Homo sapiens: one gene and its partners. Changing the gene in region 1 together with any one later gene gives a genetic interaction. Each region holds a gene or a part of one and is shown in the gene's direction. Other genes may lie near its edges.

Region 1 (7,492 bases):
TAGGCAGTTATTATTTGTGAATTCCTCACTTGATTTCACTTGAGATAAGTGAAGGGAGTTTGCATAGTTGTAAGCAGAAGAACACTGTTAAAGGCAGAGAGCAAAGGAAGGAAAGGGTATGATCTGTGCCTATAAATGTTTTTTAGTCTAAGCCGTGTGGGAAAGACACAGTTTTTTCTTATACACACATCACTGTAATAACATTTACTCAAGAAAAATAGAAATATACAGTTATGTTAGTTTAGGACACACACAAAAATGTGTTAGGATGTACATTCAATTTAAACTATGTAAGCCTTGAGCCTGGAAAGTGGAGGCTGCAGTGGGCTGAGATTGTGCCACTGTACTCCATCCTGGGCGACAAAGTGAGACCCTGTCTCAAAACAAACAAACAAAAAACCAAAAACAACAACAACAAAAGTATGTAAGCTTATAAAGAGAGTCCTTTCAGTGAATGGTGAGATCAAATTCTAATCTCAAGTCTGTAAAGAGACTTCACAGAAGAATCAAGGCTAGAAATGGGACATGGATTTGGTGTTTTAAAAAAAAGTTTGAGAGAGGAGCTTTCCATTTGGAAAGAGTGGTCTGTATGATACACCAGAGACAGGGCTGGGTTTTATGCAGTGTGGCAAGTAAGTCTGTTTTGATGGTGCAAGTAGATTAATTATTGGAATATGGAGAGATGGCTATGGCTGGGGGAAGGGAGATAGAAGGTAGAAGCTGACACGTCACGGATAGGTAGCCCTTGTAGGTTTCTGAGAGGAAAATAGCATCAAAATGTTAAGATGAAAAGGAAGGTTCTTGCTTCTGGTTACAGAGTGTCTTGCTGTGAGAAGGGATTAGAGGTTAGCCTAGGGAGATTGTTGTACTAGTTGGATGACAGGCTGCTTTGATCTTGGATGTAAACTATGGAAACGAGGAAGGAGTAGATCCTCAATTCTAGGACCTTAAAAAAAAAGACAAATGAAAAGTCAGGAAGTAAATGGAAAGTGAGTTAAATATACTGCTAAGGTTACAGTTTAATTCAAAATTTATTGTGCAGTAGCTATATGTAAAACACAATGTTAAGTGCTCTGAGAATATAAATAAATATGCTGCCCTCTGGAAACTTCTAATTTAGTTGGAAGACATCGACATATATTGAGGTAACTATTATGCAAGACAGATTATATTATAGAGGCTAGAGTGACATTTTTAAAATAAAAATCAGATAATGTCATTTGTCTGCACAAAACTACTCTTTGGCTTGCTAACCCATGCAGAATTCCTTTTTTTTCGGGGGGCGTCAAGATTTCACTCTGTTGCCCAAGCTGGGCTGTGGCTCACTGCAACCTCAACAGAGTTCTTTCTTTTTGCAAATTGAGCTATAATTCACTCTTTTTAAAATGTACAATTCAGTGTTTTTTTTCTTTTCTTTTCTTTTCTTTTTTTTAGTATATCTGCAAGTCTGTGCAACCATTACCACTATCTAATTGTAGTATTTATTTATTTTATTTTTTTTTTTTTGAGACAGAGTCTTGCTCTGTCACCAGGCTGGAGTGTAGTGGCTCGATCTCGGCTCACTGCAACCTCCGCCTCCTGGATTCAAGCGATTCTCCTGCCTCAGCCTCCCGAGTAGCTGGGACTACAGGCGCGTGCCACCACACCCAGCTAATTTTTGTATTTTTAGTAGGGACGAGGTTTCACTATGTTGGCCAGGATGGTCTCAATCTCTTGACCTCGTGATCCGCCCACCTCAGCCTCCCAAAGTGTTGGGATTACAGGCGTGAGCCACCGTGACCGGCCTGTAGTACATTTTTATCACTGTAGATAATGAAACCCTTTATCCATTAGCAGTCACTCCCTGTTCCCTTCTTCCCTCAGCCCTTGACAACCACTAATATATTTTCTGTCTCTAGATTTGTGGACATTGTGGACATTCCATAGGAATGGAGTCATATAATATGTGGCCTTTTGTGTCAGGCTTCTTTCACTTAACATGTTCTTTTATTCATGTTGTAGCATGTATCAGTACTTCATTCCTTTCCATCCAGAGTTCTTACAGTGCCCTACAAGGTCCTACACAACTGGATAACCCACCTCATCTGCGGTTACTTTCCCCTTTGTTCACTTTGCTCCAACCCTATTAATTTTCTTGCTTTTTCTCAAACATGTCAACCATGCTCCTACCTCAGGATTTTTGCTCCTTCTTCCCTCTTGAATGTTAAAATGCACCCCCTCTTCCCATAGCCACATGATTTGCTTTCTAACCTGTTCAGTTCTTTGTTCATATGTAACATTTTCAATGAGGTCCTTCTTGACAATTCTGTTTAAAAATTATACCCCCTTCATCTTTATCCCCAGTACTCTCTGTCTTCTTTTCCTGCCTATTTTTCTTCCTGGCATTTATTAGACTTCTGTGATTCAAGCTATATTTAAAAAAATGGGTATTTGGCAACATGTGTAGAATGGAGTAGATGTGAAGGGCATCAAGAGTTCAACTGGGAAACTTTCAGTAGTCCATGTGAGAGAAGTTAAGACTTTGGCTTGGGATAGTCATAATCAAAATGGAAAAGAAAGTGTATTCATTCAACATTATCAAGACTTACTGTGTGCCAGATGTGTTGCTAGTGCTAAACATATAAATATAAATAAGATGATCCTTGTGTGAAGAAGCTCACTGCCTCGTGTAGTGGAGAAATCACTGGAAGAGCTTTTTCAGAAATCACAAATTGAGATCCATTGTTGCTAAGGGCTTGTCAGAATATCAGTGAAGGTGAGGTGGACGTGTGTGTTTTGAAGAACTCTGCAGTGATGGAAATGTTCTGTATCTGATGGCTATTGAGCACTTGAAATATGACTAGTGCAACTGAGAAACTCAAATTTTATTTCATTTTAAATAGATATATGTAGCCAGTGGCTACCATATTGCAGGGCACTCATCTACTGAATAATGAGATAGGTATATGTAAAAAGCTAATTATAACATAGTGTGATATATGTCTGGTAATAGAGCTGTGTACTGTGGAACATAGGGTTCTCTCTCTCTCTTACCTATTTTGCTGATGCATGTTATAACTAACACATATGACTAGGTATTGAAGAAATAGAATCAGTGGGATTTAGAAATGGACTGATGAATGATGAAGAGGGAGAAGTCAAATATAAAAATTTAAAATTTTAATGTCTGAGTATTAGAGGCTCACATGGTGGTGTAATTGACACAGGAAGTAGAAATAAAAATTGTGTGATTCTTGACCTGTTTTTTGCATTCCAGGTTGCTGTTTGTAATTTGGCTTCCCTGGCCCTGAATATGTATGTCACATCAGAACACACATACGACTTTAAGAAGTTGGCTGAAGTCACTAAAGTCGTTGTCCGAAACTTGAATAAAATTATTGATATAAACTACTATCCTGTACCAGAGGTATGAATAGATTTCTCTGCTTATTGGTAATTATTGAAATCCAAATTGAAAGGAATCAATCATGATCTTCAAGTCATCATTTAAATGGTTATCAATAAAATGGTTTGAGAAAAAGAGGTAGTCTGTCTCATTTGGTACAGAATGTTGCTTTTCCTGTTCAGTAATGTTTTCTCCTTTTCTTTAAAATCTGTTGACACAAAGGCATGCCTATCAAATAAACGCCATCGCCCCATTGGAATTGGGGTACAAGGTCTGGCAGATGCTTTTATCCTGATGAGATACCCTTTTGAGAGTGCAGAAGCCCAGTTACTGAATAAGCAGATCTTTGAAACTATTTATTATGGTGCTCTGGAAGCCAGCTGTGACCTTGCCAAGGAGCAGGGCCCATACGAAACCTATGAGGGCTCTCCAGTTAGCAAAGGAGTAAGTATATGGATGGAATTGTTTTTGCCTGTGAGTACCTGTAGTGGGCTGAATGGTGACCCCACAAAAGGATATGTCCACATCCTAATTCCTGGAACCTGTGAATTTAATTTCATTTGGTTCAAAAAAAGGTATTTTGCAGATGTAATTAAGAACCTTGAGATAAGGAGATTTACCTGGATTATCCAGGTGAGCCCTAAATCTAATGACAGTTGTCCTGCAAGAGGCACAGAAGGGGAAGCAACGTGACTATGGAGGCAGAAATTGGAGTGTTACAACCACAAGCCTTGGAATGCTGATAACCACTAGAAGTTATAAGAGGCAAGGAACAGAATCTCTTCTAGTGCCTCTGGAGGGAGTGTGGCCCTCCCAACATGTTGATTTTGGGCTTCTGGTCTTCAGAACTATGAGAGAATAAATTTTTGTTAAGTTACCAAGTTTTTAGTAATTTGTTGCACCAGCCATAGGAAACTTAAATACCTTTGTCCTCTGGAGTAAAAAGGATACTCTGTTTTAATCTCTTATTTAGAACTAGTCATTGCTAAAATAATGTAAGAGGGATGCTGCCAATGTTAGTTTTCTGTGGGTTAAAACATGGCATTCGTTATCTCACAGTTTCCACAGGTCAGGAGTCCAGACTTAGCTTAGCTGGGCCTTCTTTTCTGGGTCTGTGTTCAAGATGTTGGTAAGGGCTGTGATCTCGTCTGAGACACAGAGTTCTCTTCCAAGCTTACCTGGTTGTTGGCAGAATATATTTCAAGGACTCATGGCATCTTGCTTCTTTAAGGCCAGTGGGAGAGACCATCTCTCGTTTCAAAAGGGGCACAGTCTAGTCTCTTTTGAGGGTTTTCACCTGATAAGTTAGGTCCACATAGGATAATGTCCTCACCACCCCCCTGTCCCGCTTTTTTTTTTTTTTTTTTGAGACAGAGTCTCACTTTGTTACCCAGGCTGGAGTGTGTGGTGTGATCTTAGATCACTGCAACCTCTGCTTCTCAGGTTGAAGCAGTTCTGCTGCCTCAAGTCTCCCGAGTTAGTAGAGATGGGGTTTTGCCATGTTGGCCAGGCTGGTCTTGAACTTGTGACCTCAAGTGATCCGCCTGCCTTGGCCTCCCAAAGTGCTGGGATTACAGGCATGAATCACTGCACCTGGCGTAATCTTCCTTTTATTTAACTCAGAATCGGCTGATTTGCAACCTTAATTACATCTGCAGAAACCTTTCACCTTTGCCATAATCGCTGGAGTGACATGCATCCTATTCTCAAGTCATGTCCATACTCAAGTGGAGATTATAAATAGCCTGTGCACCAAGGTGTGGGAATCTGGGAAGCTGTCTTAGAATTCTGCCTTTCCCACTGCCTTTATTATCAGTACTATGATTCTTTACTATATAAAATGTTAATTTCATTTCTGACATTCCTGCTGATATTAGAAAATCTAATGTGTGGTTATTAGAAAATAGGTGTTTTTAGCTAAGTAAACAGATCAAGGGACAGATGAAGGCACTGAAGAAAGTAACATTTTTAGTGTTAAAAAAAGAGAATGTGTCAGCCACACCCTTTTATGAATGTTAGAGTTTTCTGGTTTGTAGATATGACATGGGATAATCAGTTTTCTTAGCCTGCTTCTGATCAATATGACTACATGGAATTTTGTCCAGGAAAATCTCTGGAGCTTGTATTCCTCATAGAGGTTGATTAGAAGACAGCATTTGTTGGGATGTGGGGACATGGCAGCTAGTCATTTGTGGGTTTTTTTTTTTTTTGGTCATAGTTTTAACTTGCTGTAGAATAAATTTGAGTTGTGTATTCCTTAGATTCTTCAGTATGATATGTGGAATGTTACTCCTACAGACCTATGGGACTGGAAGGTTCTCAAGGAGAAGATTGCAAAGTAAGTGAAAAGATGTAAAGTAGCTTTGAAGGCAGAAGGGTTTAGGTTCACCTTCTGGATCTTCAGAAGTTAGATATGTCATTTTAACTTCTTAAACTCATTTATTACAAATGGGGCTAAAATGGCCTATCTCACAAAACTATTTTGGGAAAAAACTTCGTAAGATAATATATATAGTAACCTGGAAGTTGCTTGGCACAATGAAAGCATTTCAGTACCTGGTAGGAATTACTATTATTAGTTGATCTTATTTTAGGGACTTAACACACCTAGATTAGGTAATTTTCTTTCTCATTAAGGCTTTTTTCCAACTATGATTTTTTTTTTTAAATGTTTTTCATTCTTATTTATTTCCCAATTTAGTTACATCGGGCATATAAATGGCTTTTGTTTGAATTGATTGTCATAGGAATAATGGATTTTGGAAGAGTTTTTGGAGGGTAATGTGTTTAGACTATATGAAAAAAAAATTTTTAAATTGAGTTTTTGTAGGCCTTTCAAACTAATAAGCATAAGGGATTCGAAGGCAGACAGAATGTTTTGCAGAGTGAATAACAAAGCAAATTGTTTTTGTTTTCTATCGTGATGACTTTGTCATTTATGGGTTAATGCATATGCAAAGTGATTAATATTTGGAGAATGAAGCAGTAGCTTTAAAATGCTCTTTAAAAAAAATAACCGTTTGCCTTAAAATTGTTAAATTAAAATTGTTTTCCTACTCAAATAATACATGTTAGAAAATTTAGGAAAACATAGATTTGGAAAGAGAAAATGAAAATTATACTAATACTGCCTCCCCCAGAAAACCTGTGTGCATCTTAGTGTCTGTCATCCTTTAGGTTTTCTTCCAAGAGTACACATACATGTGTATTTACATGGAAATTCAACTTTTAAGAAAATGGACCTGTACTGTATTTATATATATATATATATATATTTTTTTTTTTTTTTTTTCCCCTCAAAATACTATGGCTTAGTTTTTTATATACATGACTTTTTTTCTAATTTCAAAATTAGTATATGAACACAAATTTATTATTAATAAAGCTCAAATACAGAAATAAAATAGAAAGTAAAAGCCCTTCTTCATACTTCTGCCAACCATTTGTCTCAGAAAACAAACCAAAAAAGTAACTTATTCTTTTTCCCAGAGATAAGACTTGTTAATGGTGTGTATTTTTCTAGATCTTTTTCAGTACATTTGCAGATAGGTACACATACACGGTTTTGTCATATAAATGTGATCAAACTTGATGTATTCTGGGCTGGGCACCATGACTCACGTCTGTAATCCCAGCACTTTGAGAGGCTGAGGTGGGTGGATCACTTGAGGTCAGGAGTTCAAGACCAGCTTGGGCAACATGGCGAAACTTAGTCTCTACTAAAAATACAAAAATTAGCTGGGCGTGGTGGTGCATGCCTGTAATCCCAGCTACTTGGGAGGCTGAGACATGAGAATCACTTGAACCTAGGAGGTGGAGATTACAGGGAGCCGAGATCATGCCACTGTACTCCAGCCTAGGTAACTGTGACTCTGTCTCAAAAAAAAGACTTGATGTATTCTGAGACTTGTTATTTAGTGATTTATTTTGGAGCTCTTTCTCTTTTAGTACCTGTAGGTCTACCTAATGTTTTTAATTATTATAGACAATTCCATAGTTTGAATATATCATATATGTAGGACTTTTCACAACATTTACCTGTCTGTAGACAGATGATGTTGCTATTTTACAGATGAGGAAGTAAAGACATGAAGATAGTTGGTGGTT
Region 2 (8,209 bases), on another chromosome or scaffold:
AGGACTAATCTGTGCTGGCGCAGGATGAAGCCACGCTCCAGGCCATGGACGAGAAGCTGCGGAAGTGGAAGGTGGAACTCTAGCCCTGAAGTCACGCCTTGGCCCTGACATCCCCACATGCCCGCAGAGATCCTCTTTGAGTGTCTGTCTTTGTCCAGGTTTCAGACATTTCTAGGTTGGGGAAGATGCTATTGGGAAACCTCTTCTCCGTGACACAGAATGTTCTGGGTGGGAGCCGCCCTTCTTCATCTTAGAGAACCAAGTGCCTCCTGTCTGAAAGGTGAGGGTGGCCTGACCTGGGCCTCTCCCTGCCCCTCCATAGGTGGGTTTGTAGGGTCTTGTGTTGCTTCTGGTCTCTCCAGGCTTGGCTGAGACGGACGGTAGACTTCCACCATGTACCGATCACATCCCAGCTCTGCATGGCCCCTGCTAAGGCTCAGGTATAACCTCACCTTCCCTGGCTCATCTTGGCCTTGGGGAGTTGCCTTTAGGCTTGAGTCCTCAAGCCTCTCCTTTTCGTCCATAATAAAATGTTTAAGTTATTAAGATCCTTATTGACGGCTTCTCTCTGCTTCACACTCATGCTGATGGCTGATCTAACTTGTGAAGAATGCCCAGAAGAACCTCAGACACCCCCACAACTTTGTACAAATGGTTACTGTAGTCACATAGTGGCACAACCAGGCCTAGCACCCAAGGCCCTCAAATGAATTCCTCACTATTAATCTTTGTTGTTGTTGTTGTTGTTGTTGTTGTTGTTGTTGTTGTTTTTGAAACAGAGTCTCGCTCTGTCCCCCAGGCTGGAGTGCAGTGGCATGATCTTGGCTCATTGCAACCTCCACCTCCTGGGTTCAAGCAATTCTCCTGCCTCAGCCTCCTGAGTAGCTGGGACTACAGGCACCTGCCACCACGCCCGGCTAATTTTTGTGTTTTTGTAGAGATGGGGTTTCACCATGTTGGCTGGGCTGGACTCAAACTCCTGACCTCAGGTCATCTGCTCGCCTCGGCCTCCCAAAGTGCTGGGATTACAGACGTGAGCCACCATAGCTGGCCTCTCATATTAATCTGATGGTAGCAGTTATTGGTGCTGGGTGTGGTGGCTGGGGTGGGGGTGTCATATGTGTTTGTGTGTGTGTGTGTGTGTGGAGAGGATTGGGGTTCGTGACAAGGAAGACATGGACATTCCCACAGGGGTGAGAGAACAGCACAGTGGGGGCCAGGAGGACCAGGGACTTAAATAATTCTCAGGAGGAGGACTGAATGTTGATCGTGCAAGCCCTACCTGCGAGGCACTCAGACGCACATCATCTTACACAACCCTCTGAGACTGAGACCTGAGTTATCTCCAGTTCACAAGAGAGGAAAGCACTCTGGAGGTGAGGTGAAGTGGTGTGCCCAGGCCTTCTAGCTGGCCCCGATTGAGTCTCACTGGATAGCAATAGTAGCTCCTGAATTTCTTTGGAAGGTGGTGTTAGGGGCCTGGTCTTGAAGTTGCATTTGCATAGCAAGCGCATGGGTTTGGCTCATATCATATGTTTAACTGGGGGAGCTGATAGGAATATATCATATAATAAAATACATATTTGGTGTTTGCCCCTGGTCCTTAGTAAAGAATTCCTAAAATCCTTGGAGTTTCTGGAAGATAGGCATGTCTTGTTAGTCACATGGAATCCCTCTGCACTGTACGATTACGGGGTCAGAACTTTTAGCCCATCGGGCCCCCTCCATCTCTGCCTCCATGGAGGTGTGAGGGACTAGACTTTGAGCCCAATCACATGGTCCATGTCTGTTTGTTATTGTTGTTTTGGGGGGATTTTTGTGTTTGTTTTTTCAAATGGCCAATGTCTTAATCAGTCATGCCTACAAAATAAACCTGTCAAAAATCACAACAAATTTAGTATAAGATCTAAGTTCGAGACCAGGCACGGTGGCTCACACCTGTAATCCCGGCACTTTGGGAGGCCGAGGCGGGTGGATCACGAGGTCAGGAGATCGAGACCATCCTGGCTAACACGGTGAAACCCTGTCTCTACTAAAAATATAAAAAATTAGCCGGGTGCAGTGGCGGGCACCTGTAGTCCCAGCTACTCGGGAAGCTGAGGCAGGAGAATGGCATGAACCCAGGAGGCGGAGCTTGCAGTGAGCGGAGATCACGCCACTGCACTCTAGCCTGGGCGACAGAGCAGAGCGAGACTGTCTCAAAAAAAAAAAAATCTAAGTTCGAGACCGGGCACGGTGGCTGACACCTGTAATTCCAGCACTTTGGGAGGCCGAGGCGGGTGGATCACCTGAGGTCGGGAGTTCAAGACCAACCTGACCAACATGGAGAATCCCGTCTCTACTAAAAATACAAAAATTAGCCGGGCTTGGTGGCAGGCGCCTGTAATCCCAGCTACTTGGGAGCTTGAGGCAGGAGAATTGCTTGAACCTGGGAGGCAGAGGTTGCAGTGAGCCGAGATCATGCCACTGCACTTCAGCCTGAGCAACAGAGTGAGACTAGATCTCAAAAAATAAAAGGCATTAATGGCTCAAGTCTATAATCTCAGCCCTTTGGGAAGCCAAGTTGGGAGGATTGCTTGAACCCTGGAGTCTGAGACCAGCCCTGGCAACATAGTGAGACACTATCTGTACAAAAAGAAAAAAAAAAATTAGTCGGGCATGGTGGCTCACACTTGTAGTCCCAACTAATATAGTCTGTTAATTAAAAGAGAACGAGGCCGGGCGTGGTGGCTCATGCCTGTAATCCCAGCATTTTGGGAAGCCGAGGTGGGCGGATCACCTGAGGTCAAGAGTTCGAGACCAGCCTGACCAACATAGAGAAACTCCATCTCTACTAAAAATACAAAATCAGCCAGGCGTGGTGGTGCATGCCTGTAATCCCAGCTACTCGGGAGGCTAAGGCAGGAGAATCGCTTGAACCCAGGAGTTGGAGGTTCCTGTGAGCTGAGATCGAGCCATTGCACTCCAGCCTGGGCAAGAAAAGCGAAACTCTGTCTCAAAAAAAAAAAAAAAAAAAAAAAAAAAAAAAAAAAAAGGCCGGGTGCAGTGGGTCACGCCTGTAATCCCAGCCCTTTGGGAGGCCGAGGCTGGAGGATCACTTATGGTCAGGAGTTCAACCAGGCTGGCCAACACGGGGCCAACATCAACACCATCTCTACTAAAAACACACACAAAAAAATTTGCTGGGCATGGTGGCACGCTCCTGTAATCCCAGCTTCTTGAAAGGCTGAGGCAGGAGAATTGCTTGAACCCAGGAGGTGGAGGTTGCAGTGAGCCGAGATCGCGCCATTGCACTCCAGCCTGGGCAATGAATCGAGACTCTGTCTCAAAAAAAAGAAAGAGTACGTGAACGAATCTATAAGAAACCTGGAGTAAATTATCTCATTTTCAGCTCTGAATCACACTACAGCTCAAGGCCCCAGGGTCCCCATGTATAAAGCCTTCCAGGAGCTAGGCGTGGTGCTGCGCACCTGTGGTTCCAGCTACTCGGGAGGCTAAGGTGGGAGGATCCCTTGAGCCCAGGAGCTCAAGCCTGCAGTGAGCTAGAATTGCTCCACTGCACTCCAGCCTCGGCAACATAGCGAGACCCTGTCTCAAAAAAAATTATTTTTAAACAAGTGAACTACTCAGAGGTCTGAGTGTTGTATTTGTCCCAACTCAGAGGGGGGCTCCGAGCCATCCAAAATTCAGCACAGTACCCGCGATGCCGCCTATTTGGACACCTACTCTGCCCAACCTACTCCAGCCCGCGTACCCCTGCAGCCCGTCGGGCGCCCAGGCCACGCCCCTGGGCGATATTGGCTCTCCGATTGGACAGCTTAATGGAGGTGTGGCCGGAAGAGGCGAGTCTCATTGGCAGAGGCGGGACCGACGGTGTGTGCGGAACATGGCGGAGCGCGGCAGGAAGCGGCCGTGCGGCCCGGTAAGTGCGGGCGGCGGGACCCCGTGCAGGGCAGCATGGTGGAGGCGTGAGAACCAGTGGCGTGGGGGCCTTCGCCGGGGCCGGGCCGCGCCTCCTGCTGCCTGCTTCCCGCTGATCCCAGGCCGGAAGCCCCCGAAGGTGCCGCGTGAGCCTCAGCAGGATGGGAACAGCGCCCGTGTCCTCTCCGGAACCCCCTGCGGCTCCCTGGCCCCCGCTGGATTACGGAGGCGGGACCCTGCTCGCCTCCGGATGCTGAATCCGGAGCCCTTTCGTGGCTTCTGGAGCCCTTTTCTGACTTCCAGGGCGACTGTGGGCAGTGCTGTACCCTGAGCCTCAGTTTTCTCTTCTGTTTTGTGGGAACTCATTCGACAGTTTCTTGAGTGCTTTCTGTGTGCCAGGCTGGGTCCCAGGCGCTGGGGATACAGCGGGTCCCTGCCCTCCTGCCGCTTTCTGGGGCAGCAGTTCGCAGAGGTTCCTTGGCTTCCTTGCCGCCCCGTGTGGAGGGGCTGGCTATGGTGCAGCAAACGGACCCCCTCCAGGTGTGACCATCAGCCTCACACTCATAATCCTCCTACCACTCCTTCTCCAGGGTGAACACGGCCAAAGGATTGAGTGGCGAAAATGGAAGCAACAGAGTAAGTAAGGGTGGGTAAGAGTATCTTCCCATAGGCCACTCCACCAGTGCTCAGTCAAACCCTGGAGAAAGACACCAACTTTGTTCCCTCTGGGTCCTGCAGCACACAAAGTGGGGAGGCAGGGGCCGGGAGCCCTGGGGAGGCTCCCTTGCTGCCCTCTGGCTGCTCACCCAGCAGCTCTCCAGAGTCCAGGCTGACCCAATGAGTGGGAACTGTCTCCTTGGCCAATTAGGATGTTCTTTTATCCAGAGAAAGAGGAGAAAAAAAAATGGAAGGATCTCAAGCTGATGAAAAAACTGGAGCGGCAGCGGGCACAGGAGGAACAGGCAAAGCGCCTGGAAGAGGAGGAGGCAGCGGCAGAGAAGGAGGACCGCGGTGAGCTGGGGTCTTGGGGAGGGCCACAGGTTGTGGCCCACGGTAGTTGTCCTGCAGGCAGAGCAGAGATGTCTTATCTGAAAGGGCCTTTACAGACCAGTAGGTCCAAACATCTTGTCCTGATGGAGAAACTGAGGCCCAGAGAAGGGAGGGAGCCAGCAAACTGAGTTCTGACCTCCTGCTTAGGTAAATTTCAAGCCTATGGAAGGCAAGCCTTATCTCTCTTTTTTTTTTTTTTTGAGATGGAGTCTTGCTCTGTTGCCCAGGCTGGAGTGCAACGGCGCCATCTCTGCTCACTGCAACCTCCACTGCCCAAGTTCAAGCAATTTTCCTCCCTCGGCCCCCCGAGTAGTTGGGATTACAGAAGTGTGCCACCACACCTGGCTAATTTTCGTATTTTTAGTAGAGACGTGGTTGCACCATGTTGGGGAGGCCGGTCTCGAACTCCTGACCTCAGGTGATCTGCCCACTTCAGCCTCCCAAAGTGCTGGGATTACAGGCATGAGCCACCGTGCCCGGCCCAAGCCTCATATCTCTTAACTTAGACCTCTAGAACTTCATGATCTTCCTGATTTTTTGACTTTTTTATTGAGCATTTTCTGTGTGCTTTAATTTCATTTTTCAATTATTTTGATTTCATAATAAAAATGAAAGAAAACTACAAAGAAGACAGGAACAATCCCAGCAAACATTGTAGCAAAAGCTTGTCCAAACAATTATAGCTACTTATCCATGTGTAGCAAAGTACAGATACAATGTTACAACAGTGAAACCATGTTATCTATGTGCTTCTTGGGCTTTTTTGTTTGTTTTTGAGACACAGTCTCGCTCTGTTGCCCAGGCTGGAGTGCAGTGGCTCGATCTCCGCTCACTGCAATCTCCACTTCCCAGTTCAATCGATTCTCCTGCCCCAGCCTCCGGAGTAGCTGGGATTACAGGCATGCGCCACCATGCCCAGCTAATTTTTGTATTTTTAGTAGAGACGGGGTTTCGCCATGTTGGCCAGGCTGGTCTTGAACTCCTGACCTCACTCAGGTGATCCGCCCGCCTTGGCCTCCCAAAGTGCTGGGATTACAGGCATGAGCCACCTTTTGTGTGACCTTGGGCCATGTATTTGACTTCCCGGGGCTGAAGGCCCCTGGTCTGTAAATGGGGATAATGGCAGTATCCTCACTAGGGATCAGGTTAATGGCTATCGGGTTAATGTGCACACACTAAAGACTTATTAGATATCAGCTTTCATTTTATCCCCATTTGATAGCTGGAGAACTGAGGCAGTAAGTGGGAGAGCCAGGATGTGAACTTAGGCCATTGCTACTAACCGCTCCACAGCCTCGCCCAGTGGTTTGCCCTGCTCAGAGGAGCCATGGAGACTGCTGGGAGACTGAGGCCCAGAGAGGGGAGCTGGATCTATTTTGCTCATCTCAAAATTCCTCCCACTTGGGAAATTCTCAAACCATGGGCGCTAGGGACAGAGGAAGGGAGAGAAAGGTAGGGGGCCCTTGCCTCTCACACTGGCTGGGAACATCCCTCCCCTGCTCAGGGCGGCCCTACACACTGAGCGTAGCCCTGCCGGGCTCCATCCTGGACAATGCTCAGTCGCCGGAGCTTCGCACCTACTTGGCCGGTCAGATTGCCAGAGCCTGTGCCATCTTCTGTGTGGATGAGATCGTGGTGTTTGATGAGGAGGGCCAGGATGCCAAGTAAGGGGCCATCCCACAGGGTGCCAGGGTTCAGGGAGAGGGAGGGGCTGCCGGGATGGGCCGAGGCTTCACCATGGCCCCGTCCACATGCCTGGCTCTTCCCTCGTGCCCTGCCTGAAATATTCCCTGTGTAATCCTTAGTGGGTAGAGTTGCCAGGTGGGGGTGATGACTACAGAGGTGGGATTGGGAGCCAGAAGGCCTAAACCTGTATCTCAGCTGTCACCCCGGCTGGAGTGCATGCAGTGGCATGGTCATGGCTCACTGCAGCCTCTACTTGCTGCACTCAGATGATCCTCCCACCTTAGCCTCCTGAGTAGCTGGGATTATACGCGTGCACTTGTAGACAGGAGCTCTTGAAGGGGCCACAGCTGGATCCTGAGCCCCCATCTCTCTCTCTCCAGGACTGTGGAGGGGGAATTCACAGGAGTTGGGAAGAAGGGGCAGGCGTGCGTACAGCTGGCCCGGATCCTGCAGTACCTGGAGTGTCCACAGTAAGGGGGTCACTCCCCTAAGCATGAGGGAGGGGTGTGTCAAAGTGGAGACCAGGTAGGAGGCGGCTTCCCCTGGGAACATCCTGAGGTCAGCATTCTTTCCTAGGTACCTGAGGAAGGCGTTCTTCCCCAAGCACCAGGATCTACAGTTTGCAGGTAACGCTGTATGGGCCCGCCCCCCCATTTCCCCTGGATCATGCCACAGACACTGAGACCACCCAGTCCTACCCTGCGCTGTCCAGGTGGGAAAGCAGGCCTGGGAGAGCAAGACCTGTGTCTGATGCCAAGACGCAGGTCTGTGGCAGAGCCGGTACTCCGCTCCAGGGTCCCCACTGCACCCTGTGTGCCCTAGCACTTCCCAGACTCTTCCCGGCTCTGCCTCCACAGGGCTCCTGAACCCCCTGGACAGCCCCCACCACATGCGTCAGGATGAGGAATCCGAGTTCCGAGAGGGCATCGTGGTGGATCGGCCCACCCGGCCAGGCCACGGCTCCTTTGTCAACTGTGGCATGAAAAAGGTAGGAACAGAAAGATGGGCTAGGACACACCTCCAGGACACACCCTGGCAATGGAGGGCAAGCAGATGGATGTTGCGGAGAGCCCTGGACCTGCCCGAAATCCCTCACTGATGCAAATTTGGGCCAGAGAATTGTGCAAAATGGGGCTCAATAGATAAAGCCAGGAATGAATTTACTGTTGCTTAAAAAGCAAATCAACAGAAGACAGTCCTCATGCTCCAAACAAAACCCTGCAGAAACAAGTTGAAAGTCACTCTGGAGCTGCTCCCATGTGGCACAGAGCCAAGCTGGGATGAGGGCATTAATTTGCCGCCTCTTTATCCTCAAGCCTCCTCAAATCAGAGGCAGAAACCTTTACATGTATGGAGTCCCTTCCTGTCAGAAAGCACAACCCAAGCGCAGTGGCTCACGCCTGTAACCCCAGCACTTTGGGAGGCTGAGGCAGGCGGGTCATTTGAGGTCAGGAGTTTGAGACCAACCTGGCCAATATGGTGAAACCCTGTCTCTAATAAAAGTACAAAAATGATCCAGGTGTGGTGGCACGCATCTATAATCCCAGCTACT
Region 3 (8,186 bases), on another chromosome or scaffold:
CCCAGCTAATTTTGTATTTTTTGTAGAGATGGGGTTTCTCCATGTTGGTCAGGCTGGTCTTGAACTCCCGATCTCAAGTGATCCTCGCCTGCCTCGGCCTCTCAAAGTGCTGGGATTACAGGCGTGAACCACTGTGCCCAGCCAATAATAATTTTTTAAAAAGATGTTTCTTTCCACCAAGAGAGACCACAGAGCTGGGAGCAGTGGTCTGCTGTCTGTAGCCTGGGGCTGGGACTGACACCCCAGCATTACTGAGGCCTGGTGACCACAGGGTTGTGTCCTCCTGGCTGGTGCTCCAGGGCTGGCCCAGCAGAAAGACCTCGCCTGAAACACCCCTTTTTCTTCATTTTGAACCTTGGACTTGCAGTTTAAATTGGGGCTTCCTGTCACCAGACTTGTTTTCTTTATGAGGGAAACATAATATCTCCAGCACCCGGGCTGGAAGAGCAGACAAAGCAGCCTAACAGTGCTCTGTTTGTGGCGTTCTCATCTTATGCAAAACCTCCTGAAATAAATCAGTCATCCTGCAAGCGGGAGGAGGCGGGGGCCAGAGGAGGAGGGAGAAGGTGGGGAGCCAGGGGATGGGACGCCCTGCCAAATGGGAAGAAATGCCCCAGCCAGCTCAGCCAAGCTTTACCGCCCTCACTCCCCCCAGCATCAATGGGACACCCCAGAGGCCCCCACTGGCCTCCCCATCACTTTGTCTGCCACCAGAGGGCAGCACACACGGGCTCTGGCACCTGGCCTTCAATCTGTATGGCAGCTTCAGCAGGCCGAGCGTCTCCTGGCCTCCGAACTCACTGCCACACCTCCAGGGTGCCTCTACCCGCTCAAAGGTCATATCTGGGGGAAATGCAAATTTGATGTCTCTTCTGAGATATGACCTCTGCAAGGACAAGAGGGGCCTCTATGCATGTGGCCGGCTCGGGTACTAGGGGCATTGCACCAGCCTGGCTCTCACAAGCCTCAGGGTGCTGAACTTGGGGAGGGAGGGAGGGGAGGAGGCAGCGAGGAGGGAGGCAGGGAAAAAAGGAGGGAGGAAAGGAGGGAAGAGAGAGAGAGGAGAGGAGGAGAAGGAGGGAGGGAGGGAAGGAAAGAAGGAGGGAGGAAGAAGGAAAATAAGGAAGGGAAGGAAGGAGGCAGGGAGGGAGGAAGAAAGAAAGGAGGAAGAGAAGGAAGGAAAAAGGAGGGAAGGAGGGAAGGAAGAAAAAAGGCAAGAGAAAAGAAAGAAGAAAAAAACCAAAGAGCAATGACTTCCCTATGCAAAATCGAGTTTTATAAGTTAGAGCTTTTTCTAACTTTAATTTTTAAAATTTAATAATTTAGCCATCACTTTCTTTTTGTGCAGATGTTATTCAAAATTTCCAGCGAAATTCTGAATTTCTCTGCAGAGAGAAAGCGTGCCGCTCCAAGTGTCGAGGGTTAGAAATGAGAATTCGAAGTCTTGTGTCCTGGAAAGTTTTGATAAGCAAATACGGCTGAGCTCCCGCGCTCTCTTCATTGGCTGCTTGTTCACCGCCAGATTTTGACACAAATAATCAGATTGAAAATCAGGGAGGGGAACAGAAGAGGAAAAACACACAGAGAGACAGAGCAAAAAGGAGAAGTATCTATTTGTGCAAAGAGTCACACAGTTGACAGAGTGGAGGCCAGTCCCGAGAGAGGCTTTGCAGTTCCCACCTCGGGAAGCTCCGGCAGAACCCAGGCGAGGGACAGCTCCGGACAGGTGAGTGCTGGAGGATGCGTTTCTACGCTTTTGTTTTGAAATGTGCCTGTGCGCCGCAGGTGGCTTCACAGCAGGCTCCCTGGCTCCTCCTGCGGTCCTAGGAAAGGTGAGGTGGGCTGGAAAAGCTCTGGAAGGCAAGGAGCCAAGGGAGAAACAGGGTGAGGACGTAGCCTCGTCTGAGCCACTGTGCTAGGAATTGCGCCTTTGCCGGCTGCGCAGAAACACTTTTCAAAATTTGATTTTAGGCTGACAGACGTCACCTTCGGGCACAAAGTCATACCCACAACCCAGCTGTCCTGGGGACCTGGGCAGTGCTCAGGGAGACACACTTCCAAGTGCCTGAGTTGTGTTCCCCCTCGGAGACAGTCCCAGACTTTAGGGACTTGACTAAAGTTCCTGGGACACTTTTTTTTTTTTTTTTTTTTTTTTTTTTGAGACAGAGTGAGACTCTGGAGCGCAGTGGTGCGATTGCACTGAAACCTCTGCCTCCCGAATTCAAGCGATTCTCCTGCCTCAGCCTCCCAAGTAGCTGGGATTACAGGCGCGTGTTACCACGCCTGGCTAATTTTTGTATTTTTAGTAGAGACGGGTTTCACCATGTTGGCCAGGCTGGTCTCGAACTCTTGACCTCAAACGATCCACCTGCCTCAGCCTCCCAAAGTGTTGGGATTACAGGCATTAGCCACTGCGCCCAGCCAAATTCCCAGGACACTTTGAGAGTCAGGCGCTCTCCCCTCCAGAGCCTACTAAGGGGAGATGACAGGGCTGCCCTCTCCCACACACTGCCCAGGCTCCAGGAACAATAGGACCGACCATGGAGAGGTACTGTTTCAGCTCGCCTTTCCCTGTGGCTGTTGTTAGCCCTTTCCACCTATTTTTGGAGAAAAAAAACCAAGTTTAAGTGTTGAGGCATCTGAGGAGACATGCTCACTCTAAAACAGGACTTGTGAAGAGGAGGTCTGCAGAATCGCCGTGGGTATGTGCCCGTGTACATTTTTCCGGGGAGAAAGTCCAGAGCTTTCACGAGTTCTTAGGGAGTAAATTCGATTACAATCTGTGGGCATGAGTCTGGTAGATATTAGAAGCCAGCTGAGCTGCACCTGACCGCCTGGACGCGCCTGCATGTTTCTTAGTAGGCAACAGGCAGAATATTTCTTCCAAGTCTAGCAAAGTGTCAAGTTTCTTGTCCTCGGAAGTATTGCAGAAGGAATTCTTTGGACAAGAAAATGCGTAATTCCCCTTGCTCTTTCTGTCAGAGTTTGGTCTTCCTGAAGAGAGTTCTTGGGGAACATTGGAGAGCTATACCTGGTTTCGGTTTGATTAATGGAATCACTCAAAACCAGCGCAGACCATTGCCCCGAAGCTTTCAGCGGGGCAGGGTAGGGTGGGTGGGAATCTTATTGGACAGTACAAGGATTTTCAAAGGCTCTGGGACCAGATGGCTCCAGATCACCCAGGGAAAACAGCCTGATCAAATGGGATTCTTCACTGTCTGTGCCACAATATCCAGACCCTTGGTTGAAACATCAGCAAACACCACCCCCTCTTAGTCTAGAGGGAGGCTTTTCGTGTGTTCCTTGCCAGGAATTCAAGCCAATGGGAGCTGCTTTAGTCTATAATATAGAGATATGCAGAAAGAGTTTCATTCACTCACTTGTCTTTTTATTTTGATAAAATACATATAACATAAAATTTCCCGTTTTAGCCATTTTCAAGCGTACCATTCAATGGTATTAAGTACACCCACATGGCTGTGCAACCATCACCACCATCCATCCACAGAACTGTTTCATCTCATAAAGCTGAAACTTCATACCTATTACACAGTAACTTCCATTCCCTTCCCCTCACCTCTGGCAACCTCTATCTATTTCTGTCTCTATGAAATTGCCTATTTTAGGGACTCATATAAGGAATCACACAGTATTTGTCCTTTTGTGATTGGCTTATTTCACTTAGCATAAATCCTTCAGGTTCATCCATGTTGTAGCATGCGCCAGCATTTCCTTCCTTTTTAAGGCCGAATAATGTTCAATCATATGTCTAGACCACATTTTGTTTGTTTGTTTGTTTGTTTGAGACAGAGTCTCTGTCACAAAGCTGGAGTGCCATGGTGCGATCTTGGCTCACTGCAACCTCTGCCTCCCGGGTTCAAGCGATTCTCCTGCCTCAGCCTCCTGGGTAGCTGGGATTACAGGCACCCACCACCATGCCTGGCTGATTTTTGTATTTCTAGTAGAGGTGGGGTTTCGCCATTTTGGCCAGGCTTGTCTTGGAACTCCTGACCTCAGGTGATCTGCCCACCTCGGCCTCCCACAGTGCTGGGATTACAGGTGTGAGCCACTAAGTCTGGCCATAGACCACATGTTGTTTGGACATTCATCTGCCATGAAACCTGGGTTGCTTCCACTTTTTGCCTATTGTGAATAGTGCTGCTATAAACATGAGTATGCAGATATCTCTTTGAGTCTCCCCTTCCAATGATTTTGGGTCTATACCCAGAAGTAGATTCACTCACTTTTGACATTGCATTCTCTGAGCTTTGGAGGAGACATTTGAGAACTCCTTCTAAATTTCAAATAAAAATGATGATTTAGACCGGCCTGGGCAACATGGCAAAACCCCGTCTCTACAAAAAATACAAAAATTAGCCAACTGTGGTGGTGCATGCCTGTAGTCCCAGCTACTCGAGAAGCTAAGATGGGAGGATCGCTTGGGCCTGGGAGGTGGAGGTTACAGTGGGCCAAGATCAAACCACTGCACTCCAGCCCAGGTGACAGAGTGAGACTCTGTCTCAAAATAATAATAATAATGATGGTGATGATGATGATGATTACTTTCTGCTGGGGCCCCTGGGCCTGACCTGGGCTCATTTTCCCCCGACTCCTCCACGGACAAGTCTTGTTTTCCCCTTGAATCTTTTTTTTTTTTGACAGAGTCTCGCTGTGTCACCCAGGCTGGAGTGCAGTGGCGCCATCTGGGCTCACCGCAACCTCCGCCTTCTGGGTTCAAGTGATTCTCCAGCCTCAGCCTCCCGAGTAGCTGGGATTACAGGTGCCTGCCACCACACCCAGCTAAGTTTTGTATTTTTAGTAGAGACGGGGTTTCCCCATGTTGGCCAGGCTGGTCTTGAACTCCTGACTTCAGGTGATCCGCCTGCCTTGGCCTCCCAAAGTGCTGGGATTACAGGCGTGAGCCACCACGCCCGGCCTCCCTTGAGTCTTTAAACATAAAGGAAGTCAAAAAGGTTCTCTGTAGCTGACCCTGAGAACCAGCTGAGTCTTACCCAACCCTCCCAAAAGGGGAACCCGAGTGACAAGTCTTTTAGTCAAGGTGGTTCAATCTCTCACTGAAGGTCAACGAATTCTACATGGGATTTTAGAGCAAAAGGGAAGTTTAGAAATCTCTTAGCCCAACCGTCCCTTTTAAGAGATAGGAAAACCAAGCCCCAGGTTGGTGGCTGATGCGGTCACAAGCTCCAGGACCCCAAATCAGACTCAACTCCTTGGGCAACAAAGGGGCCTCATTACAGGGACATCACAGGCCTGTTGACCCAAGTCCAACTGGAAGTTAGGGTGCTGGCTCCTGCCAGGGTGCAGGGTCGCCTGTCTTCAAGAAGCACTGACTGAGATTCTGACTCAGGGTCAGGGGGACTCTATCAGGATCGGGGGTTATGGAGTGATAACAGTGAGCCTCTTTCCGGAGGTCCGATACCATCAAGTCCTCTGTTTTATGAAGAATTCCTGAGCTTCTTTCATAATCTCTGCTCTTAGCTCCTTCTCAGAACGGAGTTCATGTCAATCAAAACCAAGTGGTTGTTAATTAACTACAGTATAGGTGATTGGTTCCTGTTTTTTCTTTAAAAAAAAAACAACTCTGCTAACAGGGGCCAAAAGGAAGTTCACCGGGTGCATTTGGCCCCTCTGTGAGCCAGAGGGCTTGGCCGTGGCGTTGGCTGTGTCACTGTCACTTGCCAAGCTCAGGGGAGAGAACACTGGGGGGAGGCAAGAAAGCGGGTGTGGGGCTCAGGGGAGATCACTAGAAGAAGCATGAGAATCACCTTCCTGAGGCTGGAGAACCCCAGAAGCCAGCCCCATCTTGCCCTGTGCCTAAGTGAAAAGTGCTTGGCCAGGGCTCATGAGCGCTAGAAAGTGTCCTTGTTGTGGGGCCCAGGGTTAGAGTCAGTTGACCTGGGTTCTCCTTAGGCCCTGAGCCCAGGAGAATACCAATGCTTCCTGAAGGGAAGTCTGTCCCTGGCCTGGCCCCACCAAGACTCTTCAGGAGCCATGTGGGTCTTTTAGGAGCCTGGAAAAGACTTGAGGGTCAGAGGGTTTGATTTTTCTCCCTCCTTTTTTTTTTTTTTTTTTTTTGAGACAGAGTGTGGCTCTGTCACCCAGGCTGAAGTGCAGTGGTGGTGTGATCTCGGCTCACTGCAACCTCCGCCTCCCGGGTTCAAGCGATTCTCCTGCCTCAGCCTCCTGAGTAGCTGGAACTGTAGGCAAGTGCCACCATGCCCGGCTAATTTTTGTATTTTTTGTAGAGACGAGGTTTCACTGTGTTGGCTAGGCTGGTCTCGAACTCCTGATCTTGTGATCCGTCCGCCTCGGCCTCCCAAAATGTTGGGATTACAGGTGTGAGCCACTGCACCCGGCCTGATTTTTCTCCCCTCTTGCCCCAGCACCCTGCATTTCCCTCTGTGCTGCAGGCGGTGTTCACCGGGTGCTGTGAGGACCTCTGACAGTGCTGGGTGGCACAGTGGCTTGAGAGTAAAATCCTAACAGGCCAGGAGCCCTGGGTCTGAGTCACTTTCCTCTCTGCACCTCAGTTTTCCCACCTGCAACCTGGGAAGACACTGCTTGACACGGGCACACGAGGGAGCTTCAAACTGCTGTTTTCATCCCTAGCACGTCGGCTCCACTCCCTCTGCAGAGAGAAGCCCATGCCGGGCACTGCCCAGCACTTGGCACCCATTCTGCACCGAGTAACTGCCCACCTGCTGGGCTGAAAGTCAAGAGCATGGAGGCCTGGGGCCAGACAGACCCCAGTCCTTCCCTGCTCACTCTGCCCCAGGGTCCTGAGCCCTCCAGGCTTCAGCTCCTTCTTTATAAAATGGGACAGCAGCGGGACTCAGCATCTGGATTAAGCATCAGAATTAAAGGTGTAATAAACAAGGCAGGCTAAGCAGCCCCCTGCCAGAAGGTTTGACCAGCTCCTCTTCTATCACAGAAGCCTTGGCGAGTACCTTTGGTTCTAGTTGATTTCCTCATAAATATTATGCGCAAAAAAGGATCATCTTTTGATATTTTGATAGGCAAACCATGACCCTCACAGGCCCCCTCAAAACAAAGTGCAAGGGGAACCCCACACCCCCAGTCCTCCTCCTGCTCACTGGGTCCCCTCCTCTCCCCCTAGGGTCTGGCCTCCCCATGGGCTTTCTTGAAGCGAAGAAGAGTTAAAAGCGGGAAGGAAGGGGGGTGTGGGGAGCCCTGGTGAGGGAGGGGGAGGAGGCAAGAGGAGGAAGACGTGTCCCTGGGAGATAAGGCCGTGGGCTGCCCCCGGCCCGAGCCTGTGTTCAGAGAGCCGAGAATCTGACCGCGGGAAGGGACCCCAGAGGCCTTCAAGGTCCTTTCTCCTAATTTTAGAGCTCAGAGAGTACAGGGCCTTGAGCGCGGCCCTGGCTTCTGGGAGGCTGCTGCAGCCCTTGGCACAGGGCTTACCCCGTCCTTTGAATGCACCTGCAGTGGGCTGGGTGCTGGGATGCGGGGGAGCACATGCTGAGCACCTCTCACACTCGCTCCTGATGGATAAAGGTCCTTTCTCGCTCCCCACCATCCCATGTGGTTGGATTGGGATCCCCGTTTAGCAGATATGAGCACTGAGGCTCAGTGATGAGCCTTACAGCAGGCAAGGGCTGGGCCTGAGCTTGGCCCCCTGTGCAGAGCCCCCAGTCCAAACTCTTGATGCCCCCAGGCTCTGGGCCAGGGGGAAGCAGGCCTGGGCATAGTCGGGTCCCTCTTCTGCCTGGCTGTGGTTCATCTCCTTGGGGAAGGGGTGAGTCCCTGGCCCTTTTCCAAGCTGCATTCTCTAATCTCCCACCTCCCACCCTGCTCCTGGGCCAAGGCCTTATCACCCAGGCCCTCACTGCTGTTCTGAAGCAGCTGTGATCCCTCTCCCGCCTTCTCCGGACCCTATCACCCCTGCAGCCTTGCATGGCGGCTGGCCCAAGGGGTGGGGGGGTGGGACTCCTCTGACGCCTCAGGCATGGGCCTGGTGTCGGCCTGGGTGCAGCGTGGGGGCAGAAAGGATAGAGGACCACCAGAAGATGCTCTCCAGAGTGCCCGGGGGAACCTCACAGGCTGAGTGCAGGGATGTGAACCATTCTGGGGGCCAGGCAGGGCTCTCAGCTCCAGAGGGCTCTGCAGGGGAAGCCAGGAGTCCTGGGGTGGTCAAGTTGGTCCAG
Region 4 (7,335 bases), on another chromosome or scaffold:
TGTCGGGGGGTGGGGAGCTGGGGGAGGGATAGCATTAGGAGAAATACCTAATGTAAATGATGAGTTGATGGGTGCAGCAAACCAACATGGCACATGTATACATATGTAACAAACCTGCACATACCCTAGAACTTAAATTATAATAATAAAAAAAAAATGTATCTGATAATATTAAGATGTAAGTTCCATGAAGGCAAGGACTTCATTCATTTCTGTAGCTCCAGTGTCTGGAACAGTGCCTGGCACATAGTAGCTACTCAACATTTGTTGAATGAGTGAATGAACGAATGAATGAATGCCTGAGTAAACCTGTAATTAGCATGAAAATAGCAGCTTTGCTGTGAAGCTGACTCAGGCTTACTTCTGAATGGATGTTTTTATAGATCCATAAAGCTACCAGCTCCTCGCGAAGTGAACCTGAAGGGCGGAAAGGCACTATTTCACAATATTTTACTACCTTACACTGTCCTGTGTGTGATGACCTAACTCAGCATGGCATCTGTAGTAAATGTCGGAGCCAACCTCAGCATGTTGCAGTCATCCTCAACCAAGAAATCCGGGAGTTGGAACGTCAACAGGAGCAACTTGTAAAGGTACAGTTTTGTTCCATGGGCCCAGAATCACAAGCAGTCTGATCTTACAGGAAGATATAGTCACTCTTGAATTATAGTGTGAGATACAAAACTGGTGTGAAAAGTGAAATGAAGAGTCTAAATGATAAACTTCCTAAAAATCTCAAAAATATCATAAACTATTAATAATGGTTTGTTTTATAATTTATTTTTTGTTTTTTTTATGGAATAGTGTGTTGTGTTTCTTAATAGCTACAACAAGAATGGCCATCCATCCAATTTCTTTTATAATACAGGTTGAGCATCCCTAATTGAGAAAAATCAAAATTCAAAATGCTCCAAAACTGAAAGTTTTTGAGCACCAACGTGACTCTCAAAGGGAATGCTCATGAGAGCATTTCAGAGTTCAGATTTTCAGATTAATGATACTCAACCAGTAAGTATAATGCACTTATTCCAAAATCTGAAAAAATTTGAAATCTGAAACACTTCTGGTCTTAAGCGTTTCAAATAAGGGATACTCAATCTACAGTATTAAAAAGAAGAAAGGAAAAGTCTCAATTGCTCTACTAGTGCTTACCATTCTTTAAAGAAAAATACCTAGTTGTCTTAGAGAATTGCTTGCTAGTAAACTTGGAAGGTTTATAATTCTGTGAGTCCAGGTAGATGATTAATGGCATGATTGAGTCATACTGTGTGCCACAGACTGTTCTAGGCACCTTTACAGGTGAGTAAACTGATACAGAGAGTTTAAGTGATTTGCATGTTACACTGCTAAGTGGCCGAGCTGGGATATAGACATAAAATGCAAGGATGATTTTTCAAGTATGAGAATTCTAGCAGAAATAAACAACAAACATCTCAAAGTAAGTTGAAGAATGAAATCTAAAGAAAAATTTGCCACCTCGCACCCCCCAATAAAATCATTACTCCTTATTGTTGATAAGTCATCTCCGTTCTGTCCCTACCTGCTATCCCTCTGTCACGATTTCTTGCTCTTCTCTGTCACACTCTACCTCGACCCATACCATATTGAACTTCTCTTAGGTCTGTGAATGCCCCTCGCCGCCTCCTCCTGGCCTTTAAACACCCTGCTCCTTCTGCCAGGAACACTTTCCTCTACCTATCCCACCCCACCCCCCATCTTCTGAGGAATCAGCTGAAACCTCTGGACTGGGTGAAGCCTTCCTTGCAGTAGGCTCCTGCCATAATCTCCTCTGCTTTACTGTGATTTGGGGTTTGTCTGTCTTCCTCACTAAATAGCAAATGAACCAGTGAGGACAGAGGCCCAGTTCTTTGACTGTCAAGTCAGTTATGCCTAGCATATAGCCAAGCCCATGGGGCTGGTCTGTAAATATTTATTGAATAAATGAACAAGTTCCTGGTTAATGCATGATTAAAGAAGGAATATATCACTGGAGTTATTACCAACCAACTTTCAGCCATTTTTTACCAGTTTTGTGGTTCTAGTCAGTACAACCACTGAAGTCACTGGGTGCTCCCAGCTTCTATTTATTTAATAGACTTCTGTCCTGATGGCAGCAGCCAACTCTCATAGAAAATTCCCTTGCTGGATCCTAGTATGACGCCTAAATGAGAGCAGGACCTCCAGGGCTCTGCTAAGGTCAGGCTGTTAAATGGTCCTTTCCTAGACTTTCTTATGTTTTTTCTGCACTCAATGACAAACACATCACTACTTGGTGCCATCAATTTACCCAGAGCCCATCCTCCTTCAACATTAGGTGTTCATTCTTTTTTTCTTTTTATTTATTTATTTTTATTTTATTTTATTTTTGAGGTAGGGTCTCACTTTGTCACCCAGACTGAAATGCAGTGGCATGATTACAGCTCATTGCAGCCTCAACCTCCTGGGCTCAAGTGATCCTCTCAGCTCAGCCTCCCATGTAGCTGGGACTACAGGCATATCCCACCATGTTTTACTAATTATTTTTTTTTAGACATCGGGTCTCACTATGTTGCCCAGGCTGGTCTCAAACTGTTGGACTCAAGCAATCCTCCCACTTCAGCTGCCTAAGGGCTGGGATTACAGGCATGAACCATGATGCCCGGCCATCTTATTTCTTATAAAAATACAGTTTAAAAGAAAGTGATGCCACAGCCATAAAAAAAGAATAAAATCGGCCGGGCGTGGTGGCTCATGCCTACAAATCCCAGCACTTTCGGAGGCCGAGGCGGGCGGATCACGTGAGGTCGGGAGTTCGAGACCAGCCTGACCAATATGGAGAAATTCCATCTCTACTAAAAATACAAAATTAGCCAGGCGTGGTGGCACATGCCTGTAATCCCAGCTACTCAGGAGGCTGAGGCAGGAGAATCGCTTGAACCTGGGAGGCAGAGGTTGCAGTGAGCTGAGATTGCAGCATTGCACTCCAGCCTGGGGAACAAGAGCGAAACTCTGTCTCAAAAAAAAAAAAAAAAGAACAAAGAACAAAATCATGTCCTTTGTAACAACATGGATGCAGCTGGGGCTATTATCCTAAGCAAATTAACGCAGAAACAGAAAACCAAATACTGCATGTTCTCACATATAATGAACATTGGGTACTCATGGACATAAAGATGGGAATGATGAACACTAGGGATTCCAAAAGGGGGGTGAGGAGAGGAAAAGTTGAAAAACCACCTGTCAGATACTACATTTACTGCATGGGCAACAGGATCATTAGAAGCTCAAACCTCAACATCATACAGTATACCCATGTAACAAACCTACATGTATACCCTTGGATCGAAAAAAAAAAAAAAAAGAAAAAGCGATGCTATTTATAAATAATGATGGTTTGTCATCTTTCAAGAGCTATTTTAATTTGAGGTGTTTTTCAAGAACGTTCAAATGAATGTCTCCCATACACTAATTTGTAGAAATTTTTAATGAAGCAGAAATTACTAGAGATGTAATGAGAATTAGAAACACATCCAAACAGGAGATTTTACATCATTCTCAATCCAAGACCAATCAAGTGATCAGAAATAAGTGAAATTATGGAAATTGTAAACATTATAAGTCAGACCTTGTGATTATATATCAAACTCTGTAACCCAGTACCAAAAAATGTACTTCTTAAGTGTTTCTAGAATGTTTTAAATGTCTCCCATGCACTAATTTGTAGAAATTTTTAATGAAGCAGAAATTACTAGAGATGTAATGAGAATTAGAAACACATCCAAACAGGAGATTTTACATCATTCTCAATCCAAGACCAATCAAGTGATCAGAAATAAGTGAAATTATGGAAATTGTAAACATTATAAGTCAGACCTTGTGATTATATATCAAACTCTGTAACCCAGTACCAAAAAATATACTTCTTAAGTGTTTCTAGAATGTTTTAAAAATATCTGGCCAGGTGTGGTGACTCATGCCTGTAATCCCAACACTTTGGGAGGCCAAGGCAGGTAGATCACCTGGGGTCAGGAGTTTGAAACGTTTGGCCAACATGGAGAAACCCCAGCTCTACTAAAAAATACAAAAATTAGCCAGGCATGGTGGCATGAGCCTTGTACTCCCAACTACTCAGGAGGCTGAGGCAGGAAAATCACTTGAACCCAGGAGGCAGAGGCTGCAGTGAGCCGAGATCACACCACTGAACTCCAGCCTGGGTGACAGAGCAAGACTCCATCTTAAAAAAAAAAAAAAAAAAAAAAAAAAAAAAAAAAAAGTCATAGTCTGTTAAAAAAAAAAAAAAAAAGCCTCGGCTGGGGATCATGGCTCACGCCTATAATCCCAGCACTTTGGGAGGCTGAGGCAGGAGGATCACTTGAGGGCAGGAGTTTGAGACCAGCCTGGCCAACATGGCAAAACCCCATCTCTACTAAAAATACAAAAATTAGCAGGGTATGGTGGCAGGCACCTATAATCCCAGCTACTTGGGAGGCTGAGGTAGGACAATCGCTTGAGCCAGGGAGGCAGAGGTTACAGTGAGCTGAGATTGTGCCACTGCACTCCAGCCTGGGCAACAGAGTGAGACTCCATTTCAAAAATAATAAATTAAAAATAAAATAATAAAAATTAAAATTTAAAATTAGCCAGGCATGGTGGCGGGCACCCGCAATCCCAGCTACTAAGGAGGCTGAGGCAGGAGAATCACTTGAACCTAGGAGGCAGAGGTTGCAGTGAACTGAGATCATGCCACTGCACTCCAGCCTGGGCAACAGAATGAGACGCTCTCTCTCATCTCAAAAAAAAAAAAAAAAAGAAAGAAAAGAAAGCCTCAGTACATTTCAAAAAGTAGAAATATTACAAATGAATGTAATACAATGCTATAAAATGGTAATTAATTACAAACTAAAAAAAAAAGTGATCCTTCCACTTGTAAATTCTGTTAAACAAAATGAAAACACTGCAAATCAGATTCTAGATGGCAGACCTCAGAGAAAAATTCATCACCTTAACACTGTTAATCATAAACATGAAAGAATGAAAGCAAATGAAGCAAGCATCTGACTGAAAAATTTTTTTTGAGACGGAGTCTCACTGTTGCCCAGGCTGGAGTGTAGTTGGTGCAATCTTGGCTCACTGCAACCTCTGCCTTCCAGGTTCAAGCAATTCTCCTGCCTCAGCCTCCCGAGTAGCTGGGATTACAGGCATGCACCACCACGCCCAGCTAATTTTCGTATTTTTAGTGGAGACAGTTTCACCATGTTGGCCAGGTGGTCTCAAACTCCTGACCTCAGGTGATCCACCTGCCTCTGCCTCCCAGAGTACTAGGATTACAGGCATGAGCCACTGTGCCCAGCCTTGACTAAATTTTTTTTGAACAAGAAAGCCAAAGGATAGTAAAAAGAATAAAGATTAAAGCAGATATTTTTTAAGTGCCTGCCTCCCTATGTGCTACAAAGTAGATGTCCGGGTTGGGGCACTAAAGTTTTAAATGTAAGCCTGAATCAAGCTATAATGCTCAGGGTTTAAACCAGTAAAGGATCTTGAAACTAAACACTGAGTTAAATTTAGTGAGTCAAGTAATTCCATCCTGGCTTATTTATCAGACAAGCACAGAAAGAGCTTAAATATTTATCAGTTTGTCCTGGCACCTGAATGTAACTGCAATTCATAGAGCTGTAATACAGAAATTCTATATTTGGGAATAGATTTGAGTCTCTTGGCAGAGATCTAATTAGCAAAGGCTTCATCATAGAACAGCATACTCAGTCTTCATGGAGCATACTGAAGCACATGTTTGTAAGCAGTCTGCTTGTGACAATATCATAATATTGGATACAGTAACCAGTCTACTTAGAAAAAGTGTGCCCTTCGGTTAACTGGAAGATAACTGGGGCAAAGAACAAAACTTCACTGGCCTGTGAGCCATCTCTGAAACTGAAACCCTTTGATAAATATAGATCAAAGAATTCACTAGAGCGTATTTGATTTCTCTTAAAAGACAATCCAGAGTAGTTGTTGCCATTTGGTATGGCTTTTTTAAAATCACTTGTCTACACTATTCAGGTGAAAGTCGGCCTGCATTTTCTTAACCTTTGGAGTCTTCATTGGCATCCTTTTTAATTTTTTTATGTTCTTCATGTTTTATAACCTTTTTTTTAACTATATATGCAACTTGAGACTTTAAAGTATTTTTAAAAATTGATCATTGTGTAAAACATTATAGTGCTTCTCTTTTTAAAAATTGCCTTATGATTTATTATTTTCCTTAAGATCAGATCTTATTATACATCCAAATCATCTGGGAAGCCTTAAGAAGTACAGATTCTTAGGCTTTCATGCCTGGAGATTCTGACTCATTATGGGTCTGGGATGGGGCACTTGTTTATTTTTAAGCTCATTGTTAGCCAGGGTTAAGAACCACTGGTCTGCACCACTACTTTCAAATTCACATTATTTGATTTTTTTTTTTTTTGAAATTTTACAGCTGGGTCTCTGGGGGTGACATCACATGTTGGCAGGTTCCTTGATGCCCCTTGAGCCACAAAACCAGCAAGTTTTTATTAGGGGTTTCAAAAGGGGAGGGGTGTACGAATAGGGAGTGGGTCACATGCTTCAAAGGCAGTAAAATATCACAACAGCAAAGAGGCAGAGTGAGATCACAAGGCCAGGGTGAAACTAGAATTACTGATGAAGGTCCATGTCGTGCTGGGCACACATTGTCATTGATAAACATCTTAACAGGAAACAGGGTTCGTGATCAGACAACCAGTCTGACTAGAATTCGCCAGGCTGGAATTTCCTAATCCTAGCAAGCCTGGGGGTGCTGCAGGAGGCCAGGGCATATTTCATCCCGTGTCTACAACTGCATAAGACAGACACTCCCAGAGTGGCCATTTTAGAGACCTACCCCTGAGAATGCATTCGTTTTCCCGGGGTTATTCCTTGCTGAGAAAAGAATTCAGCGATATTTCTCCTATTCGCTTTCTGAAAGAAGAGAAATATGACTCTGTTCTGCCAGGCCCTGCAGGCAGTCAGATTTTATGGTTATCTCCCTTATTCCCTGCAAATCGCTGTTATCCTGTTCTTTTCAAGGTGCTCAGATTTCATATTGTTCAAACACACATGCTTTACAAACAATTTGTGCAGATAACGCAATCACCACAGGGTCCTGAGGCGATATACATCCTCAGCTTACGGAGATGACGGAATTAAAAGATTAAAGACAGGCATAGGAAATTATAAGAGTATTGATTGGGGAAGTGATAAATGTTCATGAAATCTTCACAATTCATGTTCAGAGATTGCAGTAAAGACAGGCATAAGAAATTATGAAAGTATTAATTTGGGGAACTAACAAAT

Evidence for each region.
Region 2: changes in RRM1 (region 1) and SPOUT1 together harm fitness less than expected from each alone (positive genetic interaction), as found in Homo sapiens cells (one large-scale study listed by BioGRID).
Region 3: changes in RRM1 (region 1) and GFI1B together harm fitness more than expected from each alone (negative genetic interaction), as found in Homo sapiens cells (one large-scale study listed by BioGRID).
Region 4: changes in RRM1 (region 1) and REV3L impair growth when combined (synthetic growth defect), as found in Homo sapiens cells (one large-scale study listed by BioGRID).

Annotation. Positions count from the first base shown.
Region 1 is NC_000011.10:4,123,428-4,130,919, forward strand, and holds part of RRM1 (ribonucleoside-diphosphate reductase large subunit), read left to right. Parts: intron 1-3,256; coding exon 3,257-3,406; intron 3,407-3,607; coding exon 3,608-3,829; intron 3,830-5,646; coding exon 5,647-5,723; intron 5,724-7,492. UniProt on the Homo sapiens protein: Provides the precursors necessary for DNA synthesis. Catalyzes the biosynthesis of deoxyribonucleotides from the corresponding ribonucleotides.
Region 2 is NC_000009.12:128,825,458-128,833,666, reverse strand, and holds the start of SPOUT1 (28S rRNA (uridine-N(3))-methyltransferase), read left to right. Parts: upstream 1-3,886; coding exon 3,887-3,922; intron 3,923-4,511; coding exon 4,512-4,557; intron 4,558-4,806; coding exon 4,807-4,932; intron 4,933-6,475; coding exon 6,476-6,635; intron 6,636-7,037; coding exon 7,038-7,127; intron 7,128-7,233; coding exon 7,234-7,283; intron 7,284-7,514; coding exon 7,515-7,645; intron 7,646-8,209. Other genes in the region: KYAT1 (kynurenine--oxoglutarate transaminase 1), read left to right, coding at 24-83; KYAT1-SPOUT1 (uncharacterized protein LOC127739546), read left to right, coding at 3,662-3,922, 4,512-4,557, 4,807-4,932, 6,476-6,635, 7,038-7,127, 7,234-7,283, 7,515-7,645. UniProt on the Homo sapiens protein: S-adenosyl-L-methionine-dependent methyltransferase that specifically methylates the N3 position of a uridine in 28S rRNA. Required for association of the centrosomes with the poles of the bipolar mitotic spindle during metaphase.
Region 3 is NC_000009.12:132,977,116-132,985,301, forward strand, and holds the start of GFI1B (zinc finger protein Gfi-1b), read left to right. Parts: upstream 1-1,578; 5' UTR 1,579-1,726; intron 1,727-2,160; exon of another isoform or gene 2,161-2,702; intron 2,703-8,186. UniProt on the Homo sapiens protein: Essential proto-oncogenic transcriptional regulator necessary for development and differentiation of erythroid and megakaryocytic lineages.
Region 4 is NC_000006.12:111,300,619-111,307,953, reverse strand, and holds part of REV3L (DNA polymerase zeta catalytic subunit), read left to right. Parts: intron 1-383; coding exon 384-593; intron 594-7,335. UniProt on the Homo sapiens protein: Catalytic subunit of the DNA polymerase zeta complex, an error-prone polymerase specialized in translesion DNA synthesis (TLS). Lacks an intrinsic 3'-5' exonuclease activity and thus has no proofreading function.